2 linked regions of the Homo sapiens genome follow. The protein of the gene in region 1 purifies or fractionates together with the protein of each later gene. This does not show direct contact. Each region holds a gene or a part of one and is shown in the gene's direction. Other genes may lie near its edges.

Evidence for each region. The genes of interacting proteins can lie anywhere in the genome.
Region 2: the proteins of ATP8B4 (region 1) and TMEM230 purify together in Homo sapiens (affinity purification with mass spectrometry; one large-scale study listed by BioGRID and IntAct). This does not show direct contact.

Annotation. Positions count from the first base shown.
Region 1 is NC_000015.10:49,857,708-49,861,113, reverse strand, and holds the end of ATP8B4 (probable phospholipid-transporting ATPase IM), read left to right. Parts: intron 1-638; coding exon 639-920; 3' UTR 921-2,876; downstream 2,877-3,406. UniProt on the Homo sapiens protein: Component of a P4-ATPase flippase complex which catalyzes the hydrolysis of ATP coupled to the transport of aminophospholipids from the outer to the inner leaflet of various membranes and ensures the maintenance of asymmetric distribution of phospholipids.
Region 2 is NC_000020.11:5,099,452-5,103,209, reverse strand, and holds the end of TMEM230 (transmembrane protein 230), read left to right. Parts: intron 1-2,278; coding exon 2,279-2,419; 3' UTR 2,420-3,360; downstream 3,361-3,758.

The DNA of each region.
Region 1 (3,406 bases):
CTTTTTCTCCTTAGCTTTACAGGGAAATGAAAGAGTACAGCAAACCTCAGGTCTTTTTCTCCTTAGCTTTACAGGGGAATGAAAGAGTTGTGGGAAACCTACTCACATAATAGGGAACATTTAGAAAGGCCATACAAACCTAAGAAATCAAAACCCTGGAAGTCTCATGATACGTTGAGCTACCACAAGAATTGAATATTTCTGACTCATTTTCTGAATTTTCTTCTAGTCCAGTTACTGACAACTGTTGGATCCAGAGAATCTCTAAAAGAGAGGAAAAAGGCTGTTTTGGGAGAATGAAATTATAAATTATTATGCTGACTTTGGGCGGTGCATGTTAGAAAATCTTTCTATACAAATGTATGCTCATATGCATTGAAGATACATGAGAGACAATAATGAAATTTGTCTGATATTTCTTAATTACTTAATAGTGTCTCGATAGAGATAAAAATGGACCAGTGCCCCCCCAGTGTTATCTTTTGGGTGGAAAATTTCTTAGTTTTTAGATTTAAAACTTCCTTTTGCAATGTTGTTTTTACTTATAAAAAAAAAAGGCTTTCACTTTACAAAGTGGGCCACTGCCTGGAGTCTATCATTTGGATGCATCATCTCACTTTGGGTCTGTTTCTCTCCAGATCCGCCGGTGGCAGAAGGCTCAAAAGAAGGCAAGGCCTCCAAGTAGCCGAAGGCCTCGGACCCGCAGGTCAAGCTCAAGAAGGTCTGGATATGCTTTTGCTCACCAAGAAGGCTATGGAGAGCTTATCACATCTGGAAAAAATATGCGAGCTAAAAATCCACCCCCAACATCAGGGCTGGAAAAGACACATTATAATAGCACTAGCTGGATTGAAAATTTATGTAAGAAAACCACAGACACCGTGAGCAGCTTTAGCCAGGATAAAACAGTGAAACTGTGAGTCAATATGAATTTAAACCACGTAGTTATCTTTTCACTTCAGGTGGAGCTGAAATTCTGCTGGCTCCAGAGTTTGAGATTTGAGGCAAGAGGTGGGGCAGGCAGATTGCCTCACTTAACTTAAATCTGCGGCAGACAACTGCCAGTGCCCATCAAACAGGAGTGTGCGCTATGGAAAACCAGGCCAGAGGGTCACTGTCTGGTTTGTGATTTGGTGGACAAAACACTCGCTGTTACAAGTACAGATTTTTTTTTTTTTTAAATCAACCTAGATACCAATTGACCTGAACTTTAGAATCTTATTTATGGAGAAAAACTTGTAAAGCTGCATATTCACTGAATGGATCCTCAGGCGGATAAAAGGGTGCATTTTAAAGGTATATATCCAAGCTGAAAAGCATGCCTATTGACAGATAAACATGTATCTGTAAGATCAGCCTTTCCCAAGGTATACTTTTAAAATTTAAAGCGTGTACTGTGTTGCTTTCAGACTGAGTTGCATGTCACTCTTTAGTCTTGATATCTACCTGTCTGTTCAGCCAGGACAACAAATGGCTTCCAAGCCTGAAGAATACAAAAGTGTGCTTGTGTTTCTCATTTTTATACCAGTCTAGGGACAAAGGAGACTGAACATCTTTGCAGCAGGATAGGCTGGTAATTTGATCAAATTTATTCAAAAAGCTCTCAGTCTGTGTCATGTAAGGACATGCTTATGAAATGTGAGAGAGGCTCGCCACTAAGTATTCTAAATACTTTTCAATGGCTTTTCTAACAACCTCAGTAGTAATTTGCTGAGCATCATCCAGACCATTAATAGAATCAGCAAAGCACTGGAATTTCACACTTTAATGATAATATTCCACATAGTCTATGGGCAAATATTTTCAACATTTCCAATTTTTAAAGCTTCAGAATTGAAGCCAAACAAATTAATAAATAATTGTTTTAATTACTATTTAAAAACTCAGGTTTAGATTGTTTAAAATTAGTTGCTTTTGATACTCAGCTGTCATGTTTATAATTCAAACATGTAGTAAACATATGTAGGTAAGGTTGTTTTTTTGGAGATGTTGCAGCTCAAATTTCAGTCCACATATGAATCATCAGTGTATTTTCCATAAAGTGATTCGGGCATATTTGTGTGAAAACCTCAGTTCTGTCACTTCTTACCTCTATAAACTTGGACGATAATGTGCCTTCTCTGAGACTCAGTTTCTTCCTCTGTAAAATGAGGACATACTACCTACCTCATGTGGTTGGTTGATGATTGTCTGTCAAAGCACAAACTCTGAAATTATTAAAAACATAATTATTTCATAAACAGATGAGTTAAGTTCCAGTTAACTCAACATCAGTATAACAGAGCAATTGGAAGAGAATATGAAAAAACTGGAATCTAAATAGTCAGTGAGGAAGGCTTTGATAAAATGAAATTGCCAGAAAGATATAAAACTGGTTAGGGTCCTACAGGGAAATAAAATTATAACCGTGGAGGTACATTTCTCTACCAGAAAGCAAAAATAAAGCATCATGTCTTAATGGTTTTCTACAAATCAACTTCTAATTCTACAGAGTCCTTAATCTGGTCCCTATTAAATTCTTGGTCAGACAAAGTTACATTTCCCAAGAGAGTCAGGTGACACTTGAGTGAGTTTGATGGATAATGAGCTAATGTGATATCTATAGGTCACAATTTTTTAAAACCAAAATTTTCAAGTCTGGGATAATCTTTCCTAAATGGGATCAAATGAAATAATATGTGTAAAAGAGTCAAATGCAGTCCTTTACCATAGTAACTGCCTATGGACGTTGTCTTTCCCTTACATGCCTGCCTACACTTAACCAGATGTTGGTTTTCAATGTCTAATTTGTCATTAGTTTCACCACATTTGCTCACTTTTTGTAACATTTTTGCAAGATTTGAAAACTTTCAGTAAATGTTTTGGCACTATTGGTACTTGATGTTTTATCTCTTCTTTATGGGAAATTCATTGGGGAGATTTTTGTTACATTAGTCCACGGGTATTTTTTTCTCTCCTTTACATGCTGGGGAAAATGTACTCATTCTTAGAATCAGAGTCAAGAATAAAATGAAACAATTGGACCTATGTGTAAGGGATAGGAAAGATTAGAAGTGGTCCAATTTTGCAAGTCCAGTTTAAATTAAATAAGGCTGTTTATAAACAAATAGTGTGGATGATTGTGAGAGAAACATATTATCAGCTTACTTTGGCCCCATGAGATCCAAGTAAACTCACACACCCATTGCGAGATCATTCAATTACAAGCGCCAGGGATTATTTTGAACCTGAAGATGAAAAGTGATGAGAGGTGGGTAGTGATGGTGGGGGCACTGGGGAATAATAACATTTTAATTTTACATAAATGTTATCAAATTATTTGGAAAGAAAAACTATTTTTTCTAGATTTAAGCTGATAATCTTGTGTTTTTAAAATCTCAGCCCAAGTTTTGAGCTATTATAGGTA
Region 2 (3,758 bases), on another chromosome or scaffold:
AATTACAGGCTTTAGCCACTGCACCCCTCTGACTATGTTTCCCGTTGTGTGTTAATTATGGTCAGTGTGAGGCCCACCCTAGCCTCCCAAAGTACTGGGATTACAGGCGTGAGCCACCACACCCGGTGGATGTAGAATTTTATCAAATGCTTTTCTAGCATCGATTGAAATAATCATATGGTTTTTGTCCTTCATTCTGCTGATACGATTTTATCACATTGATTGGTTTGTATAAGTTGAACCATCCTTGCCTCTCTGGGATAAATCCCACTTGGTCCTGATGAATGATCTTTTTAATGTATTGTTGAATTCAGTTTGCTAGTATTATCCTCCTTATTGAGGATTTTTGCATCAATGTTCATCAGGGATATTGGCCTATTTTTGTTTTTTCGATGTGTCTTTGCCTAGTTTTGGTATCAGGGTAAAACTGGCCTAGTAGAATCAGTTTGGAAGTATTCTCTCCATGTCTGTTCAGAATAGTTTCAGTAGGATTAGTATTCTTTTTTTTTTTTTTTTTTTTTGAGACAGGGTCTCATCTGTCATGCAGGTGTAGTGCAGTGGTGCGATCTCAGCTCACTGCAACCTTTGCCTCCCCGGCTTATGTGATCCTGCCACCTCAGCCTCACTAGCAACTGGGACCACAGGCATATACCACCATGCCCATCTAATTTTTGTATTTTTTGTCAAGACAGGATTTTACCATGTTGACCAGGCTGGTCTTGAAATCCTGAGCTCAAGCGATCTGCCTGCCTTGGCCTCCCAAAGTGCTGGGATTACAGGAGTGAACCACCATGCCCAGCCAAGTATTAATTCTTTAACTGGTATAATTCAGCAGCGAAACCATCTAGTCCCAGGCTTCTCTCTGCTAAGAGACTTTTTATTATGGCCTTAATCTCATTACTCTTTGTCTATTCAGGTTTTAGATTTTTTTCATTGTTCAATCTTTGTTTTTATATTCATGTCTGGTACAGCAGATTCCAGCAGAAAAACCAAAAAGATTTTCTTTTACATTTTGTTCTCTGTTGGCAAAACATGTTTTTCTTCCTTTGAGCAACAGTAAACTTCCATAGTTCCTATAGGGGAGGTGGTGGCAGGTAGGCAAACTTGGCCTCTGAGATATTAGACAGTTTGCCCTGTCATAGTTTGGAACAACATGGCTGAGCCTGGCATACAGGAGTCCTGATTGGTAAAGGGCTGTAGCTGGAGCAGCATGCTGTCATTGTAGCTGTGCAGTGCCATGGACATACTGTCAGTATTTGGAGAGAAATAGCAATTCTGTTATATGTGTGGGGTCACTGTGCCTCGTAAGTCAGTTCCTTCTTACAGTAGGTTTGGTTGGAGTTCCTGTTGAGCTTCAATATGAAACCTTAGAAACCTAAAGTAGTTGGTGGTTCTTTCTCATGGGCTGTCCCCACATACACAGTGTCCAAGTTGTCTTGAACCAATTCTGACTATAATTAACACACAACAGGGAACACAGCCAGCCAGGTGCAGTGGCTCAAGCCTATAATTCTAGCATTTTGGGAGGCTGAGGCAGGAGGATTGCTTGAGCCCCAGAGTTCGAGACCAGCCTGGGCAACATAGCGAGACCTCATCTCTACCAAACAAACAAATGTACAAAATGAGCCAGGTATGGTGACTGACACCTGTAACTCCAGCTACTTGGAGGCTGAGGTGGGAGGATCACTTGAGCCTGGGAAGTCGAGGTTGCAGTGAGCTGTAATCACACCACTGTACTCCAGCCCGAGCAACAGAGCAAGACTCTTACCTCAAAAAAAAAGAAAAAAGAGAAAGAAAAGAAAACCTGAAAGGCTGAGAAAAACACAGAGTTTATTGTAGTGGTATCTGTACAATTACAAAAGGTGAAAAACAACCAAAGTGTCCAGCAGCTGTATGTGGGGCAGTTAGGTAAAACTGTAGTATGTCCATTTCGGTGGAATGTTACACATCCTTACAGTTTAAATGTATGAAAAGGTTTTAATAATATTGGCCACAGGACACAGAGTATGGTGTGTTCACAACTAAGAGCTTTAAAAAAAGGAAAAGAAGCCAAAATATCTGGATGAGAATGGGTCATTTTTTTCTTTATAATTGTTAATATTTTGTAGTTTGTCTTCAATTTATAATCAGGAGGAAACCTTTTCCCTTGGTGGTATACAACTCAAAGAAAAAGTACTGAAGAGTATAAAATACTGATCTAAGGATTAGGTCTGTGACGTTTTATTTTAAAATGTGTAACTCTTACGGTACTAATGTGTTTGCCTCCTTCTGCCACCAGGGGGCAGACCGGGCCGTTCCAGTGCTGATCATTGGCATTCTGGTGTTCCTACCCGGATTTTACCACCTGCGCATCGCTTACTATGCATCCAAAGGCTACCGTGGTTACTCCTATGATGACATTCCAGACTTTGATGACTAGCACCCACCCCATAGCTGAGGAGGAGTCACAGTGGAACTGTCCCAGCTTTAAGATATCTAGCAGAAACTATAGCTGAGGACTAAGGAATTCTGCAGCTTGCAGATGTTTAAGAAAATAATGGCCAGATTTTTTGGGTCCTTCCCAAAGATGTTAAGTGAACCTACAGTTAGCTAATTAGGACAAGCTCTATTTTTCATCCCTGGGCCCTGACAAGTTTTTCCACAGGAATATGTATCATGGAAGAATAGAGGTTATTCTGTAATGGAAAAGTGTTGCCTGCCACCACCCTCTGTAGAGCTGAGCATTTCTTTTAAATAGTCTTCATTGCCAATTTGTTCTTGTAGCAAATGGAACAATGTGGTATGGCTAATTTCTTATTATTAAGTAATTTATTTTAAAAATATCTGAGTATATTATCCTGTACACTTATCCCTACCTTCATGTTCCAGTGGAAGACCTTAGTAAAATCAAAGATCAGTGAGTTCATCTGTAATATTTTTTTTACTTGCTTTCTTACTGACAGCAACCAGGAATTTTTTTATCCTGCAGAGCAAGTTTTCAAAATGTAAATACTTCCTCTGTTTAACAGTCCTTGGACCATTCTGATCCAGTTCACCAGTAGGTTGGACAGCATATAATTTGCATCATTTTGTCCCTTGTAAATCAAGATGTTCTGCAGATTATTCCTTTAACGGCCGGACTTTTGGCTGTTTCCTAATGAAACATGTAGTGGTTATTATTTAGAGTTTATAGCCGTATTGCTAGCACCTTGTAGTATGTCATCATTCTGCTCATGATTCCAAGGATCAGCCTGGATGCCTAGAGGACTAGATCACCTTAGTTTGATTCTATTTTTTAGCTTGCAAAAAGTGACTTATATTCCAAAGAAATTAAAATGTTGAAATCCAAATCCTAGAAATAAAATGAGTTAACTTCAAACATTTCAGAAAACATTTTAATGATTTTATGATATCTTTAATCCCAGTACCTAGATCTACCTTAGTTTCTAGGTAGCTGGCATTGTGGGTCACACTCAACTTTCCCTAACTCTGAGGTTATGGACTTGGGCAACTGGAAGCCTGGACATGCCATCAGCTGAGTTGCAAGGCTGTGGGAAGAGCAAGTTTTAGATGTCTACTCAATATCCAAGTGGAGCTGTTGAGGAGGCAGTTGCGATGCATGTGTGTGTCTAGAGTTTAAGAGTGGGTCTTGGATGGAAATAGAAATTTGGGAGTCAGCATTTGGACAGTATCTTAAAAGCTAGAGGGCTGTTTGAGATCACCAGTAGAGTGAGTATAGTTGGAGGAAAAAAAAAAAACTCAGGAAGTGAGGGACAAAG